6 separate regions of the Homo sapiens genome follow, and regions 2, 3, 4, 5 and 6 are each reported to be linked to region 1. The links are microRNA targets in miRTarBase. Many come from high-throughput screens and were not tested one by one. Region 1 holds a microRNA gene; each other region holds the end of a gene's coding sequence.

The links. Region 1 holds the annotated microRNA hsa-miR-374a-3p (CUUAUCAGAUUGUAUUGUAAUU, at 2,587-2,608, opposite strand). A microRNA usually pairs through its seed, bases 2 to 8, with sites in the 3' UTR of a target mRNA and lowers its output. Matches are read on the target gene's strand: a 7mer-m8 pairs with bases 2 to 8, a 7mer-A1 pairs with bases 2 to 7 and ends in A, and an 8mer does both.
Region 2: the mRNA of KPNA3 is a reported target of hsa-miR-374a-3p. Seed matches in the 3' UTR shown: 8mer at 2,954-2,961 and 7mer-A1 at 2,054-2,060.
Region 3: miRTarBase lists GPR158 as a target of hsa-miR-374a-3p. Seed matches in the 3' UTR shown: 7mer-A1 at 2,811-2,817.
Region 4: the mRNA of VEGFB is a reported target of hsa-miR-374a-3p. Seed matches in the 3' UTR shown: 8mer at 3,355-3,362.
Region 5: the mRNA of BLMH is a reported target of hsa-miR-374a-3p. Seed matches in the 3' UTR shown: 7mer-m8 at 3,987-3,993.
Region 6: the mRNA of DTWD1 is a reported target of hsa-miR-374a-3p. Seed matches in the 3' UTR shown: 7mer-m8 at 3,705-3,711 and 8mer at 3,061-3,068.

What each region holds. Positions count from the first base shown.
Region 1 is chrX:74,284,709-74,289,782 of GRCh38, forward strand. MIR374A (microRNA 374a) reads right to left here and starts at 2,649; the gene lies at 2,578-2,649. The region is part of intron 1 of FTX (FTX transcript, XIST regulator); the gene reads right to left. MIR545 (microRNA 545) reads right to left here and starts at 2,501; the gene lies at 2,396-2,501. LOC124905199 (a long non-coding RNA gene) reads right to left here. Exons shown (of 2, transcript XR_007068266.1): 2 at 3,157-5,074.
Region 2 is chr13:49,697,268-49,702,341 of GRCh38, forward strand. It overlaps KPNA3 (karyopherin subunit alpha 3), which reads right to left. Exons shown (of 17, transcript NM_002267.4): 17 at 2,053-4,631. The coding sequence ends at 4,533. Among named protein-coding and RNA genes, the nearest start is that of EBPL, 8.3 kb to the left of the region's middle.
Region 3 is chr10:25,598,815-25,603,888 of GRCh38, reverse strand. GPR158 (G protein-coupled receptor 158) reads right to left here. Exons shown (of 11, transcript NM_020752.3): 11 at 1,660-5,074. The coding sequence ends at 4,615. Among named protein-coding and RNA genes, the nearest start is that of LINC00836, 50 kb to the left of the region's middle.
Region 4 is chr11:64,237,068-64,242,128 of GRCh38, reverse strand. VEGFB (vascular endothelial growth factor B) reads right to left here. Exons shown (of 7, transcript NM_003377.5): 5 at 4,907-4,942; 6 at 4,474-4,709; 7 at 2,865-3,773. The coding sequence ends at 4,496. It overlaps FKBP2 (FKBP prolyl isomerase 2), which reads right to left and starts at 1,034. Exons shown (of 6, transcript NM_004470.4): 1 at 997-1,034. It overlaps LOC114841035, which reads right to left and starts at 1,034. Exons shown (of 6, transcript NM_001370414.1): 1 at 1-1,034. The coding sequence starts at 849. The coding sequence ends at 52. RefSeq lists silencers at 1-75, 106-1,125 and enhancers at 224-1,124, 1,406-1,525, 1,566-1,625, 1,125-2,027.
Region 5 is chr17:30,244,265-30,249,338 of GRCh38, forward strand. BLMH (bleomycin hydrolase) reads right to left here. Exons shown (of 12, transcript NM_000386.4): 12 at 3,939-4,904. The coding sequence ends at 4,753. All of the region lies in intron 2 of LOC105371720 (a long non-coding RNA gene), which reads left to right. Among named protein-coding and RNA genes, the nearest start is that of SLC6A4, 11 kb to the left of the region's middle. RefSeq lists an enhancer at 4,193-5,074.
Region 6 is chr15:49,642,933-49,648,006 of GRCh38, reverse strand. DTWD1 (DTW motif tRNA-uridine aminocarboxypropyltransferase 1) reads right to left here. Exons shown (of 5, transcript NM_001144955.2): 5 at 1-4,676. The coding sequence ends at 4,429. Among named protein-coding and RNA genes, the nearest start is that of DTWD1, 24 kb to the right of the region's middle.

The DNA.
Region 1 (5,074 bases):
GAACCAAGCAGAAGCTGCTCAGAAAACCACCTACCCTAAAGGCAGAGAAGTGAGTAAGGTGCAGGGCAGTATATGACACTGGACCTGGACTTCCATCTTTCCTTCCCCCTACTATTTCCAGTAAACAACAGTGAGCTATAGCCATTTTCTTTCAGAAACAACGTGGATTCTCTCCCTGGGACTCTCATTCCTGCACAGATCTGCTTACACATAGTTGGGCTGTGCTGGTATTCATGCTGACTTAGAAGACAAAAATAAGAATGAAAAGAAGCTTTTTCAGCACCATGATGGGTCAGATACAGATGACATTAACACAGAAGACAGACAGATTTTTAAAACCTATTCAACAAAGATGAGTTACTGTGATAACACAAACAGTCCTGAATCTTATAGTAACATTTCAGTCACAGGCGCATATACAATGGTGGTCCCATAAGATAATAACACCACGTTTTTACTGTACCTTTTCTATGTTAGATATGTTTGGATATACAAATACTTACCACTGTATTCCAAATGCCTACAGTATTCAATACAGCAACATGCTGTACAGGTTTGTAGCCTAGGAGGAATAGGCTATACCATATAGCCTAGGTGTGTAGTAAGCTATACCATCTAGGTTTGTATAAGTACACTCCCCTATGATGTTCACACAACAACAAAATGACTTAATGATCCATTACTCAGAACATATCCTGTCTTTAAGCAACACATGACTGTATAGTTAAATGTTAATTATAAAATCTAGGTGTTGGGTACATGGCTTTTCACCGTACAATTCTTTCAACTTTTCTGTATGTATGTTTGACAACTTTCACAATACAATTTTGGGAAAAATCCAGCAAGCAGCTTTAAAAATATGGCTGTAAGACCTTTCCTTCTATTATATTTTATTCCTAGGATGATCCTATCCAACGAGATGAACCTATTCAGTGTTTCCTCCATTTTGTTTTAGATTTAGCTTTCTCAAATATGACTTTGAGCTCTCCGACTTTTTAATGAAGTGAAATGAATCAACATGTATTCATAGGCAGGTTACCAAGATAGTACATGTAAAGTTGGGGAGGCACAAGGGGAGGGGCTCTAAGCTCTTGGAAGTCTAGGCTCACTATCTGTATACATCTAAATAAATGAGTATTTCAGACACCCCACTTCTTCATTTAAAAATTAGTGTTAGGGACCCTCTAAACATTTGCCTCAGCTTACCTTTCTGCCTTATCTCACATTAAGTCCTTATTTCCCATATTCTCATTGCAAAGAACTGTGTAGGAAGGAGGGGGGCAAGGACGAAGGCACCAAAGCATGCTATGTCCACGTGCTTCAAGTTTGAATATAATAAAAGGTATTTCTAGAGTAGAGGTTCAAAGCTTGATGTTGAAGGGCAGGGTATAACTGACTGACTGCAGGACCCTGGGGGAGGTCTTATAATCTTCTACTTTAAAACATGTCTTAGCTGGCTTATCTGTAAAAGAGGAAAAAGACTTGTCACAAGCAATGACAAATGAAGTAAATAAATATGAATTTCTGGTCTGGTGAATGGAATGAGAAATGAAACCATCACTGTCGAGTGATGATCCAGAGTGGGCACAGATCTTTTTCTACAAAGGCTTTGTGGGCCACAATGTCTCCAATATATTTAATGGCAAAAACAGCAACTACTTTTGCACCAACCTAATAGCTACTTAATTGTGCCACTGGGCCGCAAAAGCGGCCCCAGGTAAAACATCGATGAATGAACATGGCTGTGTTCCAATATAGAATGGTATTTACAAAAACAGGTAGCCCATGGGCAATAAAGTTTGCCCACCCTTGGTTTAGAATATGGAGTCTGGTTGGGTGCAGTGGCTCACACCTGTAATCCCAGCACTCTGGGAGGCTGAGGGAGGTAGATCGCTTGAGTCCAGGAGTTCAAGAACAGCCTGGGCACCATAACGAGACCCCTTCTCTACGAAAAATACAAACATTAGCCAGGGGTGGTGGCACACACCTATAGTCCTAACTCAGAATGCTGAGGTGGAAGATCACCTGAGCCTAGGAGTTCGAGGCTGCAGTGACCCGTGTTCGCACCATTGCACTCCAGCCTGGGCAACAGAGTGAGAACCTGTCCCTTAAAAAAAAAAAAAAAAGAAAGAAAAATGCAAAGTCCTATCTAAGAATACTATTTGGATGATTACCTGGGCCCTGAGGATGAGGCCCCAATCTAACAGTTATCACTCAAGTCCCACCAAGAAAGCAAGTGTCAGCAATAGCAACAGTTGCAACATCTGTAAATATCAAGGACTGAAATCCAAACACAAAAATGGCATTGTCTCATGAGAAACTCTTAGGAAGATATATACAGAAATATCAAATTTCTGACCACATGCTTTTTGAAGAAACAGCTGACAATCCAGAGCCTGTGGAGCTCACTTTAGCAGGCACACAATAAATGTTTGCTGATGAGTCATTCATTTATTCATCTAATAAACATTTACTGAGGCCTACTAATGTGCCAGGCTGGGCTCTGGAGATGAAGACACCTTCCTTGCCCTCAAGGAGCTCACAGTCTAACTGATAACAGGAAGAGAGACAGGCATATACACAGACAATTACAATACAATCTGATAAGTGCTATAACACTTATCAGGTTGTATTATAATGGCCGATGTAAAATTTCTTCCCAGGGGGTGCTGCTCCAGGCTGCTGCTGGCTGTAACATCAAGAGAGGTGAGGAACAAATTATAGAAATCAAAGGTTAAATGCTTTTCGGTTATTTCAAATATTCAGGCTTTCCCTAACCCGTGGCCATAGACGGAATTGGGAACTAGACACTGGCATGATGTAAAATGGGACTTCCATGCACAGACTTCCAATAAAGGAACTTCTCAATCCCCTCCTCTAAAATATGAGCTTTTTTTTTTCCTTTTTGCTTATACTCCTCTTAACCTCCCCACCCTACTACCCACATGAGCCTGGTTTAATATCTACAGCTAGCAAAATGCTGAAAAATGGGAGCTTACAACTAACTGGATTAACCCAGTGTAACCGGATAGCAAAAAGCAGTAAGTAATAGCTCATTTGGCACTTCTAAATCCAATAATCCTCATCCTTCACTGGAAAAAAAAAGTTAGAATGTTATTAAATACAAAATAGATAATATACAGATCAGAGTAGGAATAAGTTAGAAAAGTTTATTTAATAAACATAATTAAACAGATTCTCTAAACTAGAAATAACATTCAGTTTCAGGAAACCAGAATTAGACCCCTCCAAGACCTTTGAGAATATCTAATTCACCTATGTATTATAAACAAGAAAAATGAAACAGAGAGATAACACACTCTGCCCACTCCCTTTTCAAAATCATGTGAGTGATAGTAACAGACTCCTTGAGGCAAGATTATTACTGTAATAGTTATTTGGTTCAGATGGTTTTATACAAAGATAAGATGGCATTTTTCTGTGCCTCATACCTTTCTTAATAATACCTAGGTTTTTACTGGCTTTTTTGTCTCTGACCAGCAAATAGGGCTGATAACATCAGCAAGTTGTTGACAGTTATACTGAGATCACTGTTTTGGGACCCAATGTCTCTATGAGGCTGTTATTTAATAAGCTTAACATACTATTTTCCCCTAAAGTTATTTCACTGCTCTTGCCTATACACTGTTCCTTTCTGCCAATTAGCCCACTCCTGGTGCCTTCTCACATGCTAGCGTGTTCCTATTAGCATTTCACATCCCCAAAGCATTTAACAGTATGTATAAATGTGGACACTTCAATATTGCCCATATCCTCCCTCAGACCACTCAGAAATATTTAAAATAAGACCAGTCCCTGAATGGATGGGGGAGAAGGGACCGCTGTTTTGTTTCTTGTCTAAATTAGTTTCTCATTAGGGACAAAATGTTGCCCTGTCTTCTCCCCATGCCCAGAGCCAGGAAGCACCACTGTTGTACAGTACTCAAAAGTGCTTTCCTTTTAGATAAAAAGAAATGGATTTCTGTTTAAAGGTCAGACAAGGCTGGGTAAGGTGGCTTATGCCTGTAATCCCAGCACTTTGGGAGGCGGAGGCAGAAAGATTGCTTGAGCCCAGGAGTTCGAGACCAGCCTGGGCAAGACCTCCACTCTAAAAATAAAAACAAAAATAAGATAGAGGTCAGACAAATGTTATCTCAAAATGGCTACCAAGAACCAGACATGTATCCACACAGCAGTTATATTTGGAATTGCAAACATTTCTTCAGACTCAATGGCAACAAATATTACTGGGAGCATATCTGCAACAAACGACATTTGCAACTTACAAATAACATTCAGGCACAAATTGAATAATTCACAAAAGGAAATAAGAGCTAGTAATTAAGATCTAAAAGTCCAGCCTCACTAATAATCAGAGAACTGTATCACAAAACAAAGATATCGGCCAGGTATGGTGGCTCACCCCTGTAATCCCAGCATTTTGGGAAGCCGGGGTGGGAAAATCACTTGAGCCCAGGAGTTCAAGACAAGCCTGAGCAACATGGCAAAACTCCATCTCTACAAAAAAATTTAAAAATTAGCTGGACATGGTGGCACACACCTGTACTCCCGCTACTCAGGAGGCTGAGGTAGGAGGATCTCTGGAGCCCTGGAAGTTGAGGCTTCAGTGAGCCATGATCACGCCACTGTACTCCAGCCTAGGCGACAGGGGGAGAGCCTGTCTCAGAAAAAAACAAAAACAAAAAAACCCCACAGAGATATCATTCATTCATTTACATATGGAGTCAGCAAAAAAAAAAAAAGCAAAAACATTTTTTATAAGTACCTAAATGACTGGGTACAAAAACTGACATTAATTTTTTGAAAAGTAAATATGCCAATTCTTTATAATGTTCAAATCTTTTGACAAATAACTAATTCTAGAAGTCTCTTCGATAAACAACCCAAAATAAATAATAAAAACCAAATGAAAAGATATTCATTACATAATTTAAAATACTGAAAATCTGTAAAATACTTCCATACAACAGAACATCATGAAACAATGACAATTACAAAGAATGTTTAACATGGACATGCGCATGTTATAATGTTAAAAACAAAACACAATATA
Region 2 (5,074 bases), not on the chromosome of region 1:
GCATTCCCACATCCCTTTTCCCACACATTGTATATAGCACTTTTGGAGAATCATTCTATCACTGTTTTTTAGCTATCTAAACAACATTTATACTCACAGCTTCATATACAGAAATTATATTTCCTTTCCCCCAAAAAGAGTTAAGTAAACTTTCCCAGTTTAACTAGGGTTTAAAAAATTAACCATCACTGTAAGACAACGGACATTCATGAATGTCAGGTGCTCTTGTTTACTTGTTTATCCGCATTAACTAATCCCCTGAAAAGGATGAATGACGCTTCTTAAAAAATTTTCTTTTCATATAAAAATAGAATTTTTTTAAAGATGGGGTCTTGCTATGTTGCCCAGGCTGCTCCCAAACTCCTGGGCTCAAGTGATCCTCCTGACTCAGCCTCCCAAGTAGCTGGAGCTACAGGTGTCTGCCACCAACCACGCCCTTCAGGATGACCCTTCTGAAAGAAATGATGGCAAGATTGTATGAGTACTATCACATTTACTTATACACCAACTTCTTTTAAAAGTAATTTGCAGTGGCATTATACAAAAGTAAACATTTCTATACTCAAAAGTTTGGCTGCTCCTTTGTTCTTTTAGTTAATGCAAGATTTCATTTAGTGCCATAAACTTTACCTAACAGGTTAAAACTTTTAGGTTTGCTCTGATTACTATTTTCCATAGTTACATGTTTTCAAGGGGTAGCCAGGTCTTAAAGTTTGAGTTTTTGTTTCATCAGTCACAATCATACCATCATCTCAAATAAATGGACTTTTTCTAAGTTATAGTATTTAAACCTGAGACACATAGGGAGAATGCCATGTGATGACGGAGGCAGAGACTGGAGTGATGCAGCTACAAGCCAAGGAATGCCAAGGATTGCCAGGAACCACCAGAAGCTAGGAAGAGGCAAGGAAGGATCATCCCCATCGAAGTCCCCAGACAGAGCATGGCTCAGTCATCACCTTGATTTCAGACTTCTGGTCTCCAGAAGTGGATGACAATACATTTCTATTGTCTGAAACCACCTGGTTTGTGGTACTTTGTAATGGCAGCTTAGGAAACTAATATAGATTTTGGCAATTCTTATTTGTCACAGAATAGTCTCAAATCTAGCATTATTATCGATCATCCTGGTTTGTTAGAGTTGAGATGGAAGAGGAACCCCTCTTAAGGGCCTGCCAGGTGCCCCACCAAGCATGGAAATAAAGGAAAATTTTGAGTTCCTTCAAGGGAAATTCCAGGCACCTAGCTAGCCCTATGAATAAATAAGAAACTTGATAAGCAAGAGAGTAATAGTAGCTTAAAACAACAGCCAAGGAAGTCACAGGATGTTTGGTTCCTTATAGAAACTAAAGATAACATCTTAACATATGTCCCTGAGTTGTTCTTCAGACACCTGGACCCCCACCAAATGGTCCACTGGCCAGGGAAGGGGGAACTGAGGACTGAGCTCTGACTGCCATTCTTTGTTCTAAATGTCTTCCTGAGGGGCCTATAGGAAGTCACGCCCATGGGGCAGACTTAGCATTCTTTTCTGCTGACCCCAAGTTTTTTGACAAAGCTTTGATTCCTTAATCAACTGCAAATAAGAAAATCTGTGAATTCACCTATGACCTATAAGTCACCCCCTGCCACCCTCGGCTTCAAGACAGCCCACCTTTCTAGGCCAAACCATTGTGTACTGATGTACAATTCTGCCTGTAATTTATGCTTTCCTGAAATTCACCCCTGCCTTTAAAAACCCTTGCTTGTAAAGCCATGAGGGAAGTTGGGTCTTAAGTGTGAGCTGCCTCATTTTTCTTGTTTGGTGCCCTGCCTGCAGATAAATGCCCTCCTTTTTCCTGCTGCAAAACCTTGCTATGAATGTTTGGCCTAACTGTGCCAGGTGAACAGACTCCAGTTTAGTTCAGTAATATGGTGTGAAGGAGATATTAAAATACAGTAAAAGAGTAATTCATGATTTACCTCCATTGTGATTTTTAAAAAAATAATTCCAAATTTAAATTTAACCATACAGAAAACAAACAAGTTATTTTCAGAAATAAGTTTTCAATGTTTTATCATATTTGATAGCAGCTTTTTTTATTGGTTACAAAACCTAAGCCCATATACAAAATTAGGAACACATTTAGATGCCTCTTTTGAAAGAACGTTTTAGTCTTTTTAAACTGAGTTTAAAAAAAAATAACAATGCAATTTTTAAACACTGTTTTGAAAACTTAAAAGTGCAGCAATATACTTAGTTTCCTTTATCTACGAAATGGTGCAATTCCAATTCAAAACTGGTAAGGTCACAAATTGAATCAAGGAAATGCATACAAGTGTCTGCACTACTTGATGCTAATGTTCACTTAAATGTTAGTTTGCACTTTAAAACATGAGAGGAAATAGGAATCATCACAGTAGAGGCCCAATTTTAATCATAATGTGTGCAAATTTTAAAAGGTAACTGTCAGTTAAGTAAGGAAAGTCCAGAAGAAACTAAACTGGAAGGGGTACGGTTCACAATATCAAGAAGATTTGGACTTTTAAGGGTTTCACCGAAGTTTGTGACCTTAATTAGCTTTTACGTTGTTATTCCTACTTTTAGCGAACACCACACAGTTTCAAAAATTTAGACTATAGTGTCCGAACAGGATGCAGTTACCATATGAAGCTTTAACTCAAAATTTGGATAAAGAAAAAAAGGCACAATGAACTTCAACTCAATTTTATGTGCACAAGAGTTGAAAAATCTGAGCCACCTTAAAGAGAAATTGATTCTAAAATTTATAAAACCTATAAATAATCAGAGGCCAAACCACTATATTAAAACAGATTCTCTAGCAAGTAAAAATCTTGCAGTTTAAACATACGCTTGTATCCACTTTAGATACAAGACAAAACTCACTCTTTAAAGTGGCTCCACCTTGGCAGATACATATATTTGTAATGAATGCACACCTGCTATGTGTTGTTTATCAGTGAAAACACCCCAGCTGATTCACAAAGCTCTGATGGCATCTGTCTCATCTTCATCACAGTAAATACACCCCCCAATGGATAACTAAATTAGTTTAGATTTTCTATCCCTTCACATCAATGCATTGGGAAATTATACCCAGTAAACAAGAGCAACAATACCATTTCTGTGACAGCACAAATTATTTAGTTTAAAAATTTTTAAATCCATATTCTTTCATTAATAACTGGGTCAGACAATTTACCAAAAGCAATAACTTGACATAGTAATACCGGATTTTGCAGAATTACTTAGAGATCACTGCAAATCAGGTTTATGTTAAATAACTGCAAATTACTCCTCTACACAGATCCCTGTCTGAATCTTTTAATATGTGAAGATGCTTTTTGAGTAGGATCTGAATTAACTTTCCCAATACTCAAAGAATGAACTCTTATGACACTTCTAAATAGTTGCTGGTTTGTTGCCAACCACATTATCAAAAGCACTGGTTACTAAGTAAAAAATATTTTAAGACTAAATTACAGTAAACATGAAAGCTCCACAGTTTAAACCCAATATAAATCAACCATATCCAATTATCAAATTAAAACAAAGAATATTAACTCCTGAAAGCTGAAAGCAAGATTTTTTTAAAAAACATCACCAATGGGTATTTTAGACTTTTGCAGTTTTTTTTTGTTTGCTTTTTGTTTTGCTGTTTTTCCTTTATACTCAGGGACTCTTGCTTTCAACTTAAACAGAAGTTCAAGTCCATAACAGGTTGCAGCTCAGGTAAAATACCATGCACAGCATTTGATTACTTCAAAACAGCAGGAACACACAGGCTGAAGAGAGTGGTCAAATAGGGCTTGCTGTTCTCAAAAATTAGGTATAATGGCAAAAGCATTAATATCCATATCTAAAGTTCTTCCTCCAACCCTGGCTTCTGAGGCAGATAATAAACACATCAATTACTGGTAGATGAAGTAGTTTTTTTTTTTTTTTAAACTTATCTGTTTATTCAATAACCAAGTTTCTTGTTTTTAAGTTACTTTTTTTGTGTCAGTTCCACCAATGAAAATCATTTGGCTTGTACTTTAAAATCTATTCTTCCACATAAAGAATATGAAAATATGTTTGTGGAGGACAATGATGGAGGCTCAGATCACACTGCACCTCTTTAGTCTTCCAACTTGTATATGCATCATACCAAAGTGTCTTGATCCACAGCGCACCATTTTCCAAAGGAGTATCAGTGGGCAGCTGACATGTCACCACTATGGAATATTTATTCTAAACTGGAGACTGCAGTTGTCAGCCTGTGGCACCAGGGAACAGGGAAAAATAGGGTAGTTGAGATTGTTAAGGAGAGTTCTAAAACAGTTTAGGAAATCATGCATATGCATTTACAGTCCATGTGATAGTGACTTTTGGCAACTGCAAAGTGACTGAGACATGGCTTGCTTTAGAAGCATCAAAACAAAGAGGCATGTGTGTTTTGGAGCCTTTTGTTGCTGTTGTTCTTATCATTTGGTAGCCATCTGGTGGTGCTTCATATTGAATGTGGGAAAGATGCTGCACTCAACTGAATTTAAAAATTAAATTCTTTTGTTTGAAGGTTGGCTGTTGGATCAAAATTGTAGGTACCTCCTTGTGTTGCTTCAGGAATGAGGCAGGGATCTTCATCAATCTGTAAAAAACAAGAAAAAAATCCTTATTAGGTTATGATACTATACATTATGATGTAAGTGGAATTGACTTTTTACCTCTTAGCAAATAATTCTATGTGAATGCTTTAACCAACTAAAAATATTCGAGTAAATCAATAATTTTATTAAGAAATTTAACAATTTAAAATTTAACACGTTTCGAAACTGCATTGTTAAGTTTCTGTATCTGGGACCTAGATTTATTTAACCTATCTGAACATATATCACTTATATAATTACTATTTCTTCCTAGTTAATAGATTAGAAATGAAACAAGAACTGTTTTTACAACTTTACCTTATAATGAAGTTTCAAAGTATTTAAGAGAAAGTGACTGATGGAATGTCTAATAGAAATACAGTACAAACTTATGTCATCCTAATAATAAAAGGAAAACTCTTAGTAAATTTACATCATGTATAGG
Region 3 (5,074 bases), not on the chromosome of region 1:
ATCCCTTATTTTCCATGTTCATTTGATCAGACAGTTTTATTTCTGGCAATTTTCACATCACAGGGAAAGAGAGGGAAATTAAAAACCAATTCATACATTTCATTATCTGCCTTCTAGCCAGTTAACGCTGAATTAGAACACACAAGATGCTTGAACTTTGCCCTTGTACTTTCTAAGAATCAAAATGTTTAAAGAGAAAACAACCCAAATTAGAAAGACTTGATTGCTGTCTTTACAACTATTCAGGGGGAAAAGATGGAATATGCTGATATAAGAAAATCTTAACTAACTTGCATTGTTTTAGGACACCAGATTTTCATTATTAGTTTTTATGTGATAAAGCCTATTTCTGATTTCCCTTAGGTATTTTTTTAGCAGAAAGATTCTAAATTTAGAACAAAGAAACAATATATATGAAAAAATAATATAGCCAGACACAGGTCAACTAGGCAAGTCCAGCAATAACTGAAAATTCTGTAAGTGGCAATGGTATGAGCAGATGGGAAAAGGTAGTTGCTGTGCTTCATCCAAAGAAAGAGGGGTGCAGGGATAAGGTGGGGGACCAGCTCTCTCCCCTTCCCTCTTTTCAGGCCTGGTTGTCTTTCTAGAGCTCTTCTGAGCTGGTAGAAACTTCAGTCCACATTGCACATGCCCCAAGCGCCATCTTTCCCAGCCCAGTTTAGTACCAAGCTTTCCCATAGCAGGAACCTGGGATCCTGTTCATCAGCTTTTCTCGTGAACAGATGATATGAGGTCTACCAGTCTTCAGAAAGGGCTTTCGAGGCTTTTGAAATTAGCCAAAATGTCAATAAACTCAGAAAAAAATTTGTATTTGACAGTTATCTAAAGTAACCTGATTTTTCCCATTTCACATGCTTATAATAAAATAGTAAACCCAATTGGAGATGTGATTTTGATGAAATAAACACGAATCTTTCCATCTCCTCTTTAGGCTCTCATCTTCTCTCATCATGCCTCTCACACTAATCGTTTTTAGCTGCCTCTAGTCCCTTCCCGTTTCAGTTCATTTCAGGGCTGCTTCCAAAATGATCTAATTTTTGACTTCATTATGCCACTTTTAAAAGCTTCCCAATAGCTTCCAGTGCTCCAGGATGAAGCTGCAGTTAACCTGAAGCGTGGCGTGCAGTCTGTGCTCAGTTACTTCTCCAGCCTTACAACAGTTTCCCTTTGATACCTGTTTGTTGCCTTTGCAGATTTTCGGCCTGGTGACCCTGAACTCTCTAGTGAGACTTCCCTGACCTTAGTTATGCTCATCTGCATATTGTTATACCAGTGACTGGATACTCTCATGGGCCTGAGTGTTCCTGAAGGGGTTGTTTATCTTTGTATCATCACTCCTTAGCAGATTTCCTGGTACTGTGTGTGGAGTAAACAAGCAAAGAAAAAAGGTAGCTGAGTTAGTTCCCATTTGGGAAGAGACTTCTTAAATGAAAACCACAAATAGTTTTGATTGCCTCCAAATGATTACCTGTGTGTTTGAGGCCACATTTGGCTAATCACATATTCCTATAGACTGGCAATATGAGGATGTATGTGCACAAGGATACCAGAGCCAAACAAATATATGGAATTTCTTTTAAAGTTGGACAAAATAAATTCAGTTTTCTATAGATGAACACACAAATCCCCACAAATCACTTTCATATAAATATGTTTTATTGCAGAGAAGTTATAATTATTTACATGCTGCAACACGTCACAACATAAATTTACCAAATATTTCATGGTGGGATGCTGTAGGTTTCAGATAATAGTTTTAGGAGAACCACAGATTAAGTGAAGACACTTACAGCTTTATTGACTCTACGACTCTCGGTTGCTAAATGCTAGAAGTCAAAAGGCAGTGTTTTTTCAGTCCTACCTGTCATAACTTGCATGCAGAAACCTAGGAAGCAAATACAAGAGAACTGTCGAGTTTCAAATCCATATTGCCACCAAAGTTTACAATGGGTTGAGTTATACTTCATGTTGTAAAGCATTTAATTCTTGCATAAAATATACAATTCTATTAAGATTGGTATAAATCTACTTATTTATAAACCCTGGCTTAAAAACAAGGACAGGATGCAGCCTGCACATGCATTGAGAAGGACAACCTAGCAAATGTTTGCGACCTTAAAAGTGTTTATTCACTTTCTATGGTTATCAATCTGGAAAAATAACCTCCTGACTTGTAAATTTCAACTTCTCTTGTTGATAATGGCAATGAAACTCTCAGAAAGACTCTAGGCACTCTCACTGATTTATGCTGGTGGAGAATAATCTATGAACTATAGAATGTCGCTAAGATATAATTTGGCAAGTCTTTTTAACTCACATCTCTAGCAGGATCAATCCTGAAGTGCAATAGAAAGTCACTGATGCTTGACTGCATAATTCTCAAGAAAGGAATCAAGTGCTAACAGATTTCAGACATAAATGAAACAAATATGTGGGTCTAGGAACTTCCAACCCAGTTCACAAAGATTCCTTAAAGGAGGTCACCAAGCATATAGGCCTTCATTGAAAAGGAAGAGATAAAAGAAATAAATGGTGTAAAGACACAAAAATAGAATTTCTATATCTTCTCAAACCGACCCCACCAACCTGAGTAATGCATAAAGTCAGCAAATGGGTGAGGAAGATTTGCGCACAGCTTTGTGAAACAGTGAAGTGCTTGCTTACTCCTGAATAAAAAAATCACTGAGAAAAATTTGATGATGAATATGGAGAATTCTGTTTTTACCTTCCACTGAAAATACTCTCTAAGAACAGCCCTATATCCACCCTCTGATCCTGTTTCTCCATCTTTTATCACCCTAGCATGTCCTCCTTGCTGCTTGTGACATAAAAAATAGTTATTTGTGCTGGGAGTGTCCTGGCCAAATAAGCAGTTGATACTTGGGTGTTTACAGGGAGAAAAAGGGAAGTCTCGGTTCTATTTCTGAGTGATTCTTCTTTAAATGAAATGAGACTGAGCTTTGGAATCTCACTGCATGATCATGTCGGTAGGGCTTAGTCGGCAGCTTAGGATTCCCATGCCAAGAGATCAGTGTGGAATGCAATAAGCTTTATAAAATATGCTTTGGGGGCTGCTTTGCTTTGCAAATGGACCTTACATGTTACATGTCGAGCAAGTGGCTCACAATGGCAATTTGCAGGACTTAGACATTTTCCAGTGCTTGGGAGAATGAAGATTCCATACCACCTTATAGGTTTTGAATAAATAAGGTTATAAAACCTCTTTGGGATTTGAGCCCAGCAAGTTCTACCTGTAGCTGAAGCAATGAATAAGAGTTTATGAGAATAAATACTTTAAGGTATTTTAAAATACTGTATTTTCAGTACACATAATAAAAATATATCCATACAATGATCTTGATGCTACCATAATTTTTCTCTTTAAAAAAATAATCCCTTGAAAGTGCTATCAGGAGCTACCTGTGTTTTTTTTTGAAAGGCAAACTTCCTGGGTTTATAGTACTGCTATAATTCTTATGTCATCCCTAGAGTCTTCCCTTTCCAATAGTAATAATAATGCACGGTATATTTTTCTCACTCTTAGCTTCTTCCTTTGGAAATGCTGCTAAGTAGGAAATACTGAAAGAGTTAAAAGGGACAATTAATTGGAATGAAGGCGTTATCTATCTCTGACTTTGAATAAACAACGGATAAGTTGTCCTTAACTTATTGAGACATATGACTAAGTAGGACCACTTGATCTCCAATATTAATAAAGCTTCTGAGTCCTAACAAGAAGTGCAAAACAAGTAACTCAACTTGTATAAAAAACCCTGATTAAGACAGTATAACAAACCATGATGTGAAATAATAGAGTCAAATTCAAAGTCACAATATATAAACCACAGCCAAAACTAAAAGTTTTTATAGTAACAGTTATGGCTTCCCAAGCCAGAGAAAGCTTACTGTACTTCAAGAATCAACTAAAGTTGATAGATAGCAGGTATTCTGTAAGGTGCAATAACAATTGAATAGCTGCAGATTGCATAAATGTGTTGTGTCACATAATACCAAAGTTATTTGCAAAAATTATACAATCTGGAATGCTTGAATATGAGACACAACGATATACTGAAACATACATTTATAAGAAAATGAGAGCAATCATTAATATAAAAGATATTTTTGGGATGCATTAAGTTAGCAGTGCTATCAAGGTTAAATAGGTAAAGTAAGTTCTTCTCGGTCAGCTACTTAGAATTTCAGTTATATATGTCTTATACCTTTTCTTTCTTTGCAAATCTGGTACGTCTTCTGTGTCTCCTGGTTTACCTGGCTTAGGATCTTCAAAGTCCCATGGATACATATTGATCAGGGCAGACATTGTGGGCTATTTTCCTTAAACATGCTGAAATGGAAAGATTTTCCTAGTGTTACCAAGGGAAGGACTTTCTTGACCAAAGTCTGACTTCTCCATTATGACGTTGTTGCTCTTGCCCCCCTGGTCCTCTTCTACCCATGCCTTTGACTTTACCTCACCATCTGTCATGTTTTCCTTGATTGACAAATCCTCCTTGGGAATATTTGATTCTTATATCTTCTGTCTCATATCCAATCCGGGGTTCCCTCCTTTTCCTCTTCTTCCTGGAGATGCTACACTTTAAAACTATCCCAGATCTCTTCTTTCCTAGGCCCTGCTATCTTATTTGCACTTAGAGCAGAAGAGGCAGGTAAAGCTACACTTCTTCCAGCATTTGGTTGAGCTGGGGTCTCAAACTCCCAAGGACAAACCTCTGCTCGTGATGTTAAAGGTTGCTGGAAGTTATTACTTGAGTTATAGGAGCCACGCACATTCTCCTCAGAAGAAGATGTCTTTTTTTCCTGGTGTCCTATTTGGTTGAGATTTTCATTCTCTGTTTTTGATGCTACAGCTTTGGGGGGCAGTTCTTCGCTCTGCCCAGCACACACATTGGCTGCACGAGGCTGACCTCCGTTCTCCTCTTTTGCCCTCTCTGGGAGAACTGGAGTCTTGGAAATCAAAAGCTTCTCATCTTCCAAAATGGACTGGCCTTGGCTCTCCCAAAGGCATACTTCAGCCTTATCTATGCGCTTC
Region 4 (5,061 bases), not on the chromosome of region 1:
CCTTTGCTCACCCCCATACCTTCCCTCCCTCCCAGTCCCCACCTCCGCTCTTCAGTTCCCGCCTGTCCCTTTACGCAAAGTCCAGACCCTATCTGGCTGCACTGCAGTTGCCCCGACTGGGCGGCCCCACTCACGCCACACCCAGCTGCCCCCGGTCCAGCACACCAACACCTCTGCGGCCGCTGCAGGGGGCCGGCCCCGAGGCACCCACACATCCCCACTGGGTGGCTCCGAGGAGCCCGGGTCCTCGGGAGATACCCCCCAGCCTGGCCCTGTGCTTCCGCCCGGGGCGCCGCCCCAACTCTGAGCCCTTGGGGGTCTCCGGGGCACCCAGACTGGCCCTGTGTCTGCTGGCCGCCGAGCCCGCTCCACCCACACCACCTCTCCCGGTGGAGTTCTCGGCCTACGGCGTCCCCAAGCCCGGCCACCACGGAGACCACCCCCGCGAGGACGCCCGGGGCCATTACTCGGGCCAGGCTCCTCACTTGGCTCCTTGGCACCGCCCTTCGGAGGACGCGGTACCGCCCCCGGGCCTGCAGCCCCGCCTTCGACAGAACTAGACCCCTTTTCCGGAGCCGTAGCCACGCCACTCACCGGCTGAAGCCCCGCCCCCAGCGCCTCCGCTCCGTCCCCCTCTGCTTCCGACCCCGAGGCTCCGCCTTTCACCTCCTCCAGCTCCTCCTTCAAGAGCCAGGCTCCGTCCCCCGACCCTCCTAGCTCCGCCCCCCGCCGCCGGGCTCCGCCTTCCACTGGCACCAGCTCGGAGGTCCCACCCGTCCCGGTTCCACGTCCCGCCCCGAGTCCCAGGACTCCGCCCCGTGCGGCGTGAGAACCCTCCCCCTGCGGCATCTCCGGACAGCTCCGGCCCCCACCCCCAATTTCCTCGTCACCTAGCTCTCGTTGACACTCGGAGCCCGGTCCGCTTCTGCCCGGCCTGATCCAGCCTGCCCTCTTGCACCCCGGCTCCCCCCAGCCCGGGCTGTGGCCCCCGCTCACCTCCTCGCCGCGCCCCCGGAGTCAACCCCGGTGGTGCTGCCGCCTCTGCGCAGGCGCGTCCTCGTCGCTACCAGGCCGGGCCACGCCGCCCTCCCTTATTGGACCGTGCGAAACCCGCGGCCACACGCCCGCTGGCACGGGTCTTTCCCGAGCCCCGCCCCCGCGACGCCGCTGCCCTGCGTCACTTCCGGCGGAGCGGTAGTCTGTAAGGTTAGGTGAAAGTGACTTCCGAAAAGGCCGGAGACACTTCCGGCCGAGGTGATAGTAAGGTCAGGCGGGCGTGGGTTCCCGGAGGGGGTCTTGAGGCGCCATTTCAAGTCGCCCCCAGCCTCTCCCACAGCACTCCTGTTTTCCCGGGCCTCATCATGGCCCACGGCCCTCAGTCGCTGTGGAGCCTGGGCTTCACAGTGACACTCACGTTTGAACTCCCGGTCGGCTGTGTGCTTGGTAGAATTTGTCATCCAATACAGGCGTGTAACACGGGCTTGATGACACCCACCCCACAGGGCCCCTGCAGGACCGAGATGATGTCCAATGACAAGCCCTGGCTTCCAGCCAATGCTCCTGCCCACATCTCTCTCCCAGGAGCCAGGCTTACCTCTACCTGTGCACCTGGGCTGTGACTCATGACTGGAATGATCTGGCTGGGCCTGTTCCCCCACCAGACTTATTTTCAGGCGCCCCAGCAGCCACCAAACATCTGTCAACTGAAGTAATGAACCTGCAGTTGAGAGGCAGCTAAACCTAGGTTGAAGGTTAGGGAGACAGCTGAGTTGAGGTCAAATCCCCCCGGCCAGTTAGCCTTTCTGAGCCTATTTCCTCAATTGTAAAAGGAAGACAATCATGATGCTGACCTCAGAATCGAGCGAGGAGAAAGTGAGGAGGTGCATGTGAAGCATTGTGCGTGACTGGTGGGGCTAACTGGGCTCTGGAGGCGGTAGCTCTGGGGCCCTAACCCCTTTCTGCCTCATGCTAATTGACCTATGGCATGTCCAGTGACATCATGACTGAGAAAATGATTTGAAAGTAGTAATCGCTGTCAGGAATTGTCTCCTGGTTCAACCCACTCCTGCCTTAGGCCCACTAAGATCATACCCACATGCTCTGACCCAACACCTCAGAGAAAGCCTCCATTAGGGTGGCTGCCCCTCCCAGTGGCTGCCCAATTGAGTTAACTCTGCCCCTGAATGTCCTGCTTCAGCAGGCAAAGCAGTGGTGCCCAAGGTTGGCCTTTCATCCACCCCAAACCACTCAGCCCTGGGCACTGGAGGCTGCAGGGAGAAGGGTAGGGGCTGGGCTTGGGCTAGGATAGACAAGTCAGGAGAATCTCAGGCAGCAACTGATGATGAAGGAAGCTGCAGGATGCAAGGGAGGCGAGGGTGGAGAAAACTGTGTGGGTTGGGCGGGCGCGGTGGCTCACGCCTCTAATCTCAGCACTTTGGGAGGCTGAGGCAGGTGGTTCACCCAAGGTCAGGAGTTCGAGACCAGCCTGGCCAACATGGTGAAACCCGTCTCTACTAAAAATGCAAAAATTAGCTGGGCATGGTGGTGGGCACCTGTAATCCTAGCTACTTGGGAGACTGAGGCAGGAGAATCGCTTGAACCCAGGAGATGGAGGTTGCAGTGAGTGGAGATTGTGCCATTGCACTCCAGCCTGGGTGACAGAGTGAGACTCTGTCCAAAAACAAAAAAAAAAACAAAAAACTGTGGGTTGGGTTGAGGGGAGCCTGCCGCCCAAACCAGGCCCACCAGCCCCAGACTTGCGGTGCTTCCCTTTCAGGGAGGTGGGAGTGAAGTTAAGACAGGGCAGGTGCTGAGGCTTTAGATTCAAGCTGCAGGGAACAAAAAGCAGCAGATGCTGAAAGCGCTGCCTGGCAGGAAGAACAAGTGTTCTTTTCTATTACGTAAAGATAGTCTCAAACTTCTCTGGGGCCCGAGGACGCCAACCACAGCAATCTTCTGTTCCCTCTATGTGCACATGTGGAAACTGCTGCTCAGAGAGGCAGGGGTAGTGACAAGCAAGGTCACTCAGTAGATCTGGGTCCTACCCCAAGCTCTCTGGCCACAGAAGGCTGTCTCCTTCTAGAAAAGAACCCTGGTGAAGAGCAGGAGGGCAGGCAGTCTGTATTGACTGGGCTATCCCTGACTCCCATGCGTGGCAATAACTTGAAAGTGATGAATACATAATTCTGGCCCTGCCTGGGATCTGCTGTGGGGCCTTAGTCCTCATTTCCTCCATCTGCACAATGAGGGAGCAAGACAAGCTCTGGATTTAGTGATGCAGACATTCATGCCCAAACCAGCCAGCCTGGACAGTGACAAACAGTGACACAGGCAGGGACAGCTCCTTCCATCTCTTTTATCAGGGTTGGGGGTCACAGTTCTTGTACCAAAGCCCAAATCCCATTATGCAGAGGTTTGGGTCTTCTTAGTGAGGGGAGGAAGAGCCAGTTGTAAGATGCTTACTTGCACAGAGTGGTTAGAAACTGAGACAGTACTCCATTCTCCCCTGAGCTGGTATGTGACCCCTCTTGCTGCCTCCCAGTCTCCTCTTCCAACTCTGTCCTGTTTGATGATGGCCTCAGGGAGACAAGGGATGGCAGAAGAGCCCTCTGAGAGGCCCAGGTCCTAGAGCAGCTTCTGCCTGGGCTGAGGTCTTGGGGGCTTGGCTGTTTTTTACCAGGCTCCTCTTTGTTCCCCCACTGGGATATAGCCTCTGAGGCAAGTCACCCTGCTGAGTCTGAAAAGCCATGTGTCACCTTCGCAGCTTCCGGCACCTGAGGAGGGAGGAAGTGATCTGTTCATGCTGGCTGGAGCGCAGCCCCAGCCCTGGACTCATGTGTGCCTCGGGCCCACTAAGATCACAACCTGAGCATCCTGCCACACCACTCGGCCCTGGGCACTGGAGGCTGCAGGGCGAAGGATGAACCTTTTGCAAAGGTCATCCCCTCCTGACACTCCTCGGGAGCCCCCACTGGCCCTGCCCATATGATTTCACCCCATGGCCTCACTGCGGGACACGGATGGTGAGAAACACATCAGGTAAGGGTGGACAAGGGTTCCACTATGTCCCCTGGCCTCTTGAAGCCCGTAGGTAAGGGCAGATGTCTACCACAGGGGCTTCTGGGAAGGCCCGAACTGCAAGCTGGAAAAGCTGTGTCCTACATTTCTACTCCGGGCAGATGTCACCTCCTCCAAGAGATCTCTGACCTCTGAAAGACGAGGCCAGGTACCCCTCACCACAGCCCTTGACATCCTCTGCTGGCATTGTCCCTCCTGTATCTGACTCCTGAGTTAGAATGTTGGACTTGCTTATACAGCTCCAGGTGCCAGCAGCTGTTTGGTAAATATTTGTTCAACACATTCAACAGTTTCCCCTTCCCTGGCCCTCCTCCTACTGGCAGGCTCACCCTGGACCTGCTCCAGGACAGGGCCTTGGTGCCTTCCCAAACAAACACCACCCCACAGACGCCTCACCTGCAGGTGTCTGGGTTGAGCTCTAAGCCCCGCCCTTGGCAACGGAGGAAGCTGCGGCGTCGGCAGCGGCAGCGGCAGGTCCGGGGGTCAGGGCGCTGGTGGTGCTGGGTGCAGCGTGGGCAGAGGGGCCTGGGGCTGGAGTGGGATGGGTGATGTCAGCTGGGGAGGGTGCTCCGGGGGCAGAGTCCCAGCCCGGAACAGAACGGGGCTGGGGACGGTGGTGGGGAGTGGCAGCCCTAGGGAGGAGAAGCGACATGTCTGGGGTGGGAAGGAAGAGTCTTCCCTAGAGCTGGGGTCGGGGCAGAGAACACAGGCTTGGGGAGCAGAGGAAAAGGGAAAGTGGGGGACGGGTGGGAGGAGAAAGAGGAGCAACAGCTTCTGGACTCACTTGTACTCCCCATACCCCTACTCAGCTGGAGTCCAAAAGACTCACCTGTCTGGCTTCACAGCACTGTCCTTTTTTTTAGGTCTGAAAAGTAAGATAGACAGACACAGACAAACAAGAGGAAGATCAGGAAATCCCAGCATCCTACTCTCTCTCTCTCTCTCTCTCTCTCTCTCTCTCTCTCTTTGAGACTGTGTTTCCCT
Region 5 (5,074 bases), not on the chromosome of region 1:
AGTTTTTCCAGAGGAGTCAGCAAGAGGGAAAGCACTGAGTATTCAAACAATATCCAGGAAAGATGATGTGGAGGGTTTCCCATCTGCACACAATCCTCTTTCCAAATAGCTACAGCTAGCCAGACGCAGTGGCTCACACTTGTAATACCAGCACTTTGGGAGGCCTAGGCGGGCAGATCAATTGAGGCCAGGAGTTCAAGACCAGCCTGGCCAACATGGCAAAACCTTGTCTATACTAAAAATACAAAAAAAAAAAAAAAATTAGCTGTGGTGGCGCATGTCTGTAATCCCAGCTACTCTGGAGGCTAAGGTGGGAGAATTGCTTGAACCCACGAAGTGGAGGCTGCAGTGAGCCGAGATCGTGCCACTGTACTCTGCACTCCAGCTTGGGTGACAGAATGAGACTCAAAAGAAAAGACAAAACAAAGACCAAATAGCTGCAGCTGTTGTGAATTGAACATTCCCCTATTTCCTTTCCCTCTGCAATAATGTGTAAAGGACTTGGAGTTTGAAAAAGAAAAACAGAAAAACCCGGCCAGTTTAATCCTAGTTTTCAACCCATTTGTGTCACAGACCCCAAGAAGGAAGCCATTGGCTTCATGAGTATCAACAACAGTTCTCAACAAGTTGTCCTAAATATGACCACGCTCATCTGGAATCACTTTAAAAAGTATCTAACTTAACAAATGACTAACTAGAGCCACCGTGGGCAATGGTGCTCACCCACACCACACTAGAGGAATAGGACTTCAAGTCCAAGTGCCCTGGTGCCACCAACAGCAACTTAGAATTAAGCTGCTCTTTAAGGACAAGCCAAAGCAAGCAGATGGGCCACACCACATCCTGAAGGCATGTCTCATTATCATGCCTTGGCTTCTTGGACGTGTAGGGTCACCATTACTCAGGCCAGGACTTCCCAGAGGCCAGTCATGAAGCTCTCCTCTGGTGACACTGTATGATTCACAGTTAAAGCAAAAGACAACTCCATGCCTTCCCATTTCCTACCTCATTCGTCACCCAAATACTAGCAGTTTCTTCCAACTGAGACCTCCAGCTACAACTTCAGCCCATTTCCCTAATCTTTAGCAGAGAAGATAAAACCACCATGCTTCATTTCTCCCCTCTGGATCCTAAGTTCATTTGAAAAATGGCTTTCATTAAGTATTTGGTAATGAAGATTATCTTTTTTACATATTGCTGCATTTGGTTTAGGATTTTTGCATCTATGTTTATGGGTGAGGTTTACATGTATTTTTTTCACTATCCTTATCAGGGTTATGCTAGCCTCATAAAATCATTCTTTAGGCCATAAAGTCGTTTTTTACGTCTTGCCTATTGAGCTAATCGAGTTGCTCCTGAGAAGACTTCCAATTTCCTGGCTACTAGAGTTCTAGCAGCCAAGGATGGCAAGAAGATTCAGAATGTAAATGCTCACTTAGGGGATTCACCTGACACCTAGACTACACACTTCTTCTCTCTCCAGAAAAGAAATCTCTAATGCACTGATGAATGGAGGAAGGGCATCACCAAGCCGGTCGGTATAGGAAGGGGACCCAACAGACATTCAACTCTTTGGTAACCCTCCCTTCACGCCCAATTCCAGAATGCTTTCTGTTGCTACCATATCTATGCTTTTCAGGGGATTATGCACTGTAAATTGATTTGCTTATCACTGGCTTTCTCCACCACTGGCTCAGTGAGATTCAACTTTTTCAGCTCTGCTAAATCTTCCAAGGTCTCCATCTGCTTTCTGGGTTCAAATATTTCATTGGCTCCTCTCCTGGTCTTCCCGAGCTTGTGGATTTGTCTTCTAAACAAATCCCTTTACTGTTGCTTTTGAGAAAGTTGAGAGTATCTTCTATTTTTCTAATATTTGCAGCATCTATAATATCCTTTTAATTCCCTGTGTACTTAAAAAAATTAATATTTGTCAATTTTTCTTTAAAAGAACCAACTTCTGGCTTCGTTGATGCTATGCTTAATTTCTGTGCATATCTACTTCCTTTAGGTTTATTTTGCTGTTCTAATTTCTTGAAACAGATGTTTAGCTCAATTTTCAGCCTTTATTACATCCTAGTATAACTTTGATATTTAGATTTAGAATTTACATTCTATTATTCAGAACTAATTAAAATTCTATAATCTTAATACATTAATGTAATAATTTAATGCTGTAAAACCTTTAAATTACTGTTGCAGCTGCATCCCTCGTTTTGACATATTTTTATTATTGTTCAGGTTAAATTTCCTTCATGATTTCTTCTTGGACCCATGAGTTAATTTCTAAACATACAGAGGTCGTCTTGTAATCTTTTAATTTTGGTTTCTAACTTAATTGCACTGTGGTTGGAGTGTGGTCTACGTGGTAACAACCCTTTCAAATTTGTTGAGATTGACTCTACCGTCCAGTATATGGTCGCTTTTTGAAAAAGTTCCATAGGTGATCAAAATGAATGTGCAGTTGTTAGATGCAATTTTTTTTTTAACAGGTTTATGCTCGGTCATTGGTTTCCACACATCTGTGCTTTCAGGATGAAGATGTGGTCTTCTAAACACGTCCATTTTACCAAACTTGCTAAATGTTTAAATCTCTTATATACTTTCCTGAATTTTTTGTTGCTTGGTCTACATGAAGCATATTAAAATCTCCCACTATGATGCTGGATTTCTTATTTTTCCATATAGCTGTTTTTGTTTTACATATTTTGAGGCAATGTTATTAGGTGCATAACTTAGAATCTTTGTTTTTCTGAAGAATTGGGTAAGCATATCATTATGTAGTGGTTCGATCTGTAGTAATGCTTTTTGTCTTAAAGCCTATTTCCAGGGCTGTGGTGTTCCACAGCTCCAGGGAGGACATTCACATTACAGTTTATGCAAATAAACTGAAATTAGACAGTCTGTTTCGTTACTTTGGAGTGGCCTTAATTCTGTGGGTTATGAGTATAACTTCTCAGTTTTATTTTGGTTAGTATCTGCCTGATGTATCTTTTCCATCCTTTCTTATATTGTAGGTTGCCTATGTCTCTCTCTTGTCATCACATATGGCTGGATTTCTTTTAAAAATACAGTTTGGCATTTTTTTTTTCGGGAACATTTAGTCCATTTACATATAATTATTGGCACATTTAGATTTCTCTCTACTATCTTGTTTTGGATGCTCTATTTGTCCTGCCTTTTCTTTACCCTATCTTGTCTTCTTGACTGATTGCATTTTTCCATTCTATTTATTCTTGATTGAAAACTGTATCCTCTGCTTATTTTTAGTAGATACTATAGAAGTTTTTGGCACAGGTTTACATACCAAAGTCTGAAGTTAAACAATGTATTTATCTTCTTCCTGAAAGACACAAGGATCTTAGAGTATGTTCATTCCAATTACCTCCCCTCCCTAGTTATCTGCTACCTTCATGGATTTTCGTTTTACCTTTTTTCCAACCCTGTTAAGACTCTTCTACAGTTGCTTTTTGTGTAGCTGACCAACATAACAATCATGTTCTTTATTCTACATTCCTTGATACATTTCAACCCTTCCATACTGATCACTTCCCTTCTGTTGGGGCAAATTCAGTTTTTTTTGTGAAAATGTTTTCTATTTTACCCTTGTTCTTGAAAGGGTGGCCCAATCTCAGTAAGATAACTTACTGACCTATTCTAAGGCTGGGCCCAACAGAGCCTCACTCCCCACCCTTGTAGGGACCCTGGATCTGGGTAGAACATTTATGCGGTAGGGGAACAGTCCTTCTTAAACAGGCGCTTGGAAGCCCTTTGCAGATGCCGGTGAGAATCGGCGGTCTGGGAAAGAGTACACATCTTGCAGAGAAGCTGAAGAGGGAAGCCCTTTTCCTGTTTTTTCACTTTCAAGAACATGAGCCACCTGGCTGCTTTCTTTTGTAGATAAACAAACACTTCTCAGACAGATCACATAAATCAGCTTATTCTCATTTAGCAAAGTTTTTATTCAAAAGCTTCTCAGCACCATCTAGTTATCAGAAAGAATGGATATCACCTTTTCCTGCCCACCCAATCCCCAGTTCCACAGGCAGAAGTTAAACCATTTGGCTAGAGTTCCCCCTAATGATTATGACTGAGACCATGATAAGATTTTGGTTGTTCTCACCCAACTGTCTCTAAGCCTCTACTCAAACCTGACTCAAGCAGAGATGTGCACACCCCACAGTTCAGAACAGGAAGGAATCATGTCAGATCTGATCAACCTCCCATTCTTGGGCTATTAGAGGCACAAGAAATTACCTTGAAAAAATGGAATTCAGTGACTGCCATCTAGGAAAGACAGTGATACTGTCCAGCAGCATGCAGTTCCGAGAGCTCAACTCTTAGGCCACCCTCCCTCCACTCTACTCTAGGAACAAGGAGCATTAGGTCTGTTTTCTCTCCATACACCTCAATCGCTCGTCCTCTCGTCTTATTAAAACACAGACACAGAACCAAACTTTTTGACAGTTAAAGACAAACAATTACATCTAATTAAAATGCTAAGAGATCCTGAGCTGTTAGAGATGAGGAGAGTAGATAGTATGACCTGATCTTCCCCCCTCTTTTTTTTCCTTTAACAGTATTCTGTTTCAGCATAAAGCACACTTTCTGAAGAGGTTCCTGGTGGAGACTGGAAATCTGACTGTGTCCTGTGGCAACACACAGTCCCTTGCATAACTTTGGCTTCAGTCCCTGGATCTGTCCTTTGCAGCTACGTCAGGTTCCATGGAAGGAGGAAAGAGCTGGAGGGCAGTATCACTCAGCCAAAGCTCCCATGGGGTCCCATGCTGGCAGGATAATGGGTTCCTGCTCTAACACAGCTAGCACCTCTTCAGGGACATGCTTCCTGTCCACCACCACTTCGTAGACATACTCAGAGAACCACTCATCTGTCATGCACAGGTAACCTGGAGAAAAGAACAGAAGACTTATGAGTCCAGAGGGCAAGGGACAAAGAGCAGAAACCCTTTTTGTAGGATAAACCTTTTACAAAACTAATATTCATACATATTTTTCAGCTTTCCCATCTGTAATTTCATTTAATCTAAATCTTATTAGCAATTCTGTGAAGCAGATA
Region 6 (5,074 bases), not on the chromosome of region 1:
CTAAGATTGGCCTTAGGTATTTGGAATTCAGAATTTTCTATTCTTATGCTATATTTTATCTTCAACTCTTATATTTAATTTTTATTTCAGCAATCACTTTTTAAATTTCTGAGATCTTTTTTATTGCTTGTTCTTTTTCACACTCTCCTATTCTTGTTTTGTGAATATAATATACTCTTATTTTGAAGACAGTTTTTTTTTTGTTGCCATTATTCTCCGTTTGTCTATTTCCTTTGGATTTTCTCCCCTCCTTTTCCCCTTTTATATTTGAAGGATTTCACCAAGTGTCTAGTGATGTTTGGCTCTTATGTATGGGTGGTGATTTTTGGCTGGTGGCCTTCAATGTAGGGTCAGTAAGTGTTTGGTTAAAGTTTTCACTAGGGTCTTTTAATTGTCAGTATTTGGAGATAAAAAGTTGCTATAATTAATGCTTCCAGTAACATGGAAGACAAAAAATATACCTAATGCATTCATGGTATTTGGTGATGTTTCGAGGCTCTTAGGTACCTTATCTATTGTACTTAATAACAGTCAGCTTATTCTGTCAAAATGAGAAATGTAAGAAACAGACAAGCTCAAAATTAAGGCAATGGGTATGGAAATGGAACTGAAATGAAATACATAACCTAGGATATGCAGAACTAGAAAATAAAATTGTTTCTCATCAAATAAAATGTGATCATTAAAAACAGCCTAGTACAAAGACCAAATCAAGGGACTGCCATTAACATGGCCTCAAAGAAAAGAACAAATAAAAGGTGTGGCCATTTACTCCTTTTTAAGACTTCTGAAGGGATTTAGGGGGACCTTCAGGATGAACCAAAGGGCTCCTAGAAAGATTAGAGGAATGAGACACTTGATATGCTTAAGATATACATGTTTCTACAAATGAAGTCATGAGTACTTTGAGAATCTCCGGCTGACCTAGTTAGTCACTGCTTCTCTAAATCTCTTCTGCTGCAGCCTTCCAGACCTTTATTACCCCAGTAATTCTCACATTGGGGTAAACCTTAATTTCTTTACTAAACTTCTTTATTCATGTAATACTTGTAACGATGCTGCTTTTCTAACTAAATCCAGACTAAAACACCTGACTTCCCTAGAAAAAGAGACCCTAAAGGAAATATATCCACTACTTTATTAAAGGTACAATCCAGGCTGGTAAGAGCGAGGAAGAAAGGAAGTGAGGCTGGCAATAATGGGAGGCAAATGCAAACTGATAAATTACTGTGTAGCACTTGCTGCTGTTTCATGAAAAGCCATGAAGAGACACTGCCAATCATGTGGCAAGTACACTTGCTTGGCCACAGAGTACGCTTCTGGACAGGCAAGATGAAAAACAGTGTCTCTATACAGTCCATCAGAAGAAGAGCAATTTACCCAGCAGCTTTTTCTAGTCCATTGATCCAAGTTTTTCAGACAGTTAACTTCACAAACCTACCAGACTACATCGCCTAGCCCTTTTAACAGTCATTGTGGCATGGGGTTTTTAAAGCACAGAAGTGTTGTTATAGGCCAGGGATTCTGAACATATGGCTAATTGATCTCAAGCAGAGGAATCATACAAACCTGCTGGTAATCTGTTACTATATGAGGTGGTAGCTAAGGCAAAGCAAGTGGTCAAGAGCCCAAGAAACATGAGACTGAGAATCTTCTAAGGTACTTGAAGAAGATGATCTGATAATGCATCCAAAGATGAGATATCTATAGCCACAATAAATAGCTATAAGACATTGGTGGCATAATAGACATTCCTTGCTCACATGTTTGGAATCAGGTAGGTGTCAGTTAGATGACTCTGCTGATCTTGGCTGGAATCATTCACATATCTTGGGTTTGGCTGGCCATCAGCCAATCTAGACAAGATTCAGTGAGGGTGACCAGGGCAACCTGGCTCTGTTCCATGGAGTCTCATGCTCCAGCAGGCTAACTCAGCCATGCATATTCTTATGTCAACAGCAGAAGCACAAGTGTAAGTAAAAATGCACTAAATCTCTGAATGCAGATGACCCAGAATCACAGTGGGGGGAGTACTTCAAAGGAACCTGAAAAATGACCATGAATACAAGCAAGGATAAAGAATTAGGGCCACTGTTACATCTATCACACCAAAAAAACAAAAAACAAAAAACAAACAAAAAAAACTAAGACAAGTATAGTCAATTCATTGTTCTAATAGGTATTACTAACTTCTTTTGAAAAGAACCTGAGATTTTATCTGGCCTTAGCTGTAAATTAGGCTCTTATGAAGTACGTGGGTCATCTTTCTTATGCCAGCTGAGAGATGGAGGCAAATGAGTGATAGAATTGTTCTCTGTCTCTCGCTTTTTTTTTTCTTTTCCCTCTGAACTGTTATGTTTAGTTGGTTTGTAAAGCCAGTTAAATGCAATAGATTTTGGCTCAGGGAAGTCCAAATTTAGCCTAGAGAAATCCAACTTTGGCCCTGCTTAAATCAATTCAAGCCTTCCTCTATTCCCAGGGCCAAGTTCTAAACATGAAAAAAAAAATCTATTTTAATTCCATTCTTGTAGAATAACTGCTAAAATAAGCAAGCCAGTTAGTTTATTTGGCTAAGACTGTAAGACTAATAATGTTCAAGCCTTATATAATCCACATTCCTTTTTATGAATAGCATAATATAATGGTGACCTTACTGAACCAAACCAAATCAGAAGTTCCAGATTCTAGAACAGGCTCTGCTACTAACTAGGTGTATGATCTATCAATAATTTACTTACCTCTTTAATTCTCAGTTGCCCCATGTATATTAATAGGAATTGTTCTTAATTACAATACTCCAAACGTCCTATTTCCATGGCATGTTAATAGGTGCTACATATTCAAGTAAGTTTAAGATATATCAGCTTAAATAAAGTTCAAAATGTTTATTTCAGGACTTTTCAGAACCTTTAATATGTTTTGCCTTCTGAATCCCTGGGAGGGAAACAACGTAATGTACAGCAAACTAATTTCACCAAGAACTCTTTCCCCCATAAAACATCATGTGTCCCACTGTATATACTTCAGGAAATGTGCTATTATTTCACCCAAACAGGTGAATTTATCAGAGTCCCCAAAAGAAATAGAAGGCTATTTCAAGTGGGGACATTTGAGAAGAGTGTAATAAAACAACTACAGTATTTACAAATGTATGAGCAGGGTTTAGGTAAAGCAACAAGTTGTAGTGAACTATACTGGGGCTAGTAATAACTGTAAGCTATTACCAACCCTAAGTGAAAAGGGGTAAAGGGAGGGAGCAGGAACTAAACCTAGTGAGGTAACTGGGGTAACTGCTTGGGAACAGAAGAGATAGGATTCCTGATAAGGTACTATTTAGTAGAGGAACACAGCCAACTGATGATGACATGGCAGGAAAGGAGCCAGGGAAATAAATAACATCATTTCATTTTCCTCTCAACTTCTAATCTCCCACTGGTGCTTCCCATTTGTTGAACCCAACCAAAAGCAAGAGAGCAAAGGAACCTACCTCACAGAGCAGGGAGCAGAATAGAAAAGAGCAGACAGAAGCTATTCAGCACAGTAGGGCTCTATTCACAAGCAGCTAGGTCTAGGTAAATAAATGATGTCATCAGGACTCAGTCTCTCTTTTTCTCTCCACTCTGCTTTCCTTCGCTGACTTCATTCTAAGTCAGGCTCTTTTCACCTGGCAGCAGAGATGGCCACTAGCAGGTAGGCTTCAATTATTATCAGTTCACAATTCCAAATAAAATAAAAAGAGTAAACATATATGTAACACTTACTATATTTCAGGTACTGCTGAAAGCCCCTTAGATATTAACTCAGTTATTCCTATAAGGTAGTTGCTCAGTATTGCCTGCTTTGTACAAATGGAAGAAAATGACATGGCTGATAAGCAGAAAGGCTGAGATTTAGATTCAGGTAGTCTAGCTCCAGAGTCTCTGCTTTTAACAACCTTAGGACTTAAAGAAACAGCCCTAGATACCAGAATTCTAATTCTAGTTCTGCCTATGTTTGCTACTAACCTCAAGAAAAATCACTTATGACCTATTTTTCAGCCAGCAGATTGTAACCCCATTTACTTCTAAAGGTGGTCATGAGTACAGGTGAAAAGATATAAAGATGTTGAAATAAATAGCTAATTAGATCTAATGGAATATGTTATATCTAATCACAGAGACATAACACACTATATTAAAATGTAGTAATGAAACTGAGGTTTCACTGAGCAAATAACTTCTGAAGTAAGTTTTTCAATCAACAGTATCTCTGAAAAATTCCCCCAGATACAATTTCCTTCAAGAAATATGAAGTGATATATATGAAACTGGAATTTTTTCAAATGGTCTTACAGGCATTATATATGATTATTTCTTAAGAAAAAACAAAGCACAAATATAAGTTTATTAATGTTAGCAAAATAAAAAGACATAAGTGGCTTGTTAAAAACTAATGTGTAAGTTTTCCTGTTTCCTTATCTCCAGAGCATTTGGCATTCTTTATCAACTGGTACATAAAAGAATAGAAAAATAAAAGATTGTCATATTGCCCTCTGTATTTCTCTTTTAATATATCAGTATGGTAGTCTACCAGAAAGTAGTAAATGGCTTCAATTGTAGAAAGGAAAGTATCTGGCTTTCCTTTTTGATGGCGCCAAAAGCAAGTTTTTCTTGTTTTCAACTCAACTTGTAACAACCCTGTCAAAAAAAAAAAAAAAAAAAGAAAGAAAGAAAGAAAAAATATAAATATTTCTTCTTAACCACAGGCTTGGTACAATAATAATGATTTCTCTTAATTATTCTAAGAATTTTTTTTTAAAGACTGCAGATAACTTCCTTCAATCCCAGTTTGAAACAAGATATTTTCTTAAACACCTCAAGGTATATACAGAAGCAACATAAAACAAATAATAAAATCTTATACATGACAGTTAACACTGAGTCTTAGACCAATGAATTAAAAGTAGTTAACATTTAAGATATTCATGTCTTCCAATCTTCTATGTATCAGCATCTTCAAAAATCTAAATCTCTGACAGGACTGCATTCACCAATTTTCAGAAGGGTTTCATTTCCTTGACAAACTGACTTTTTTG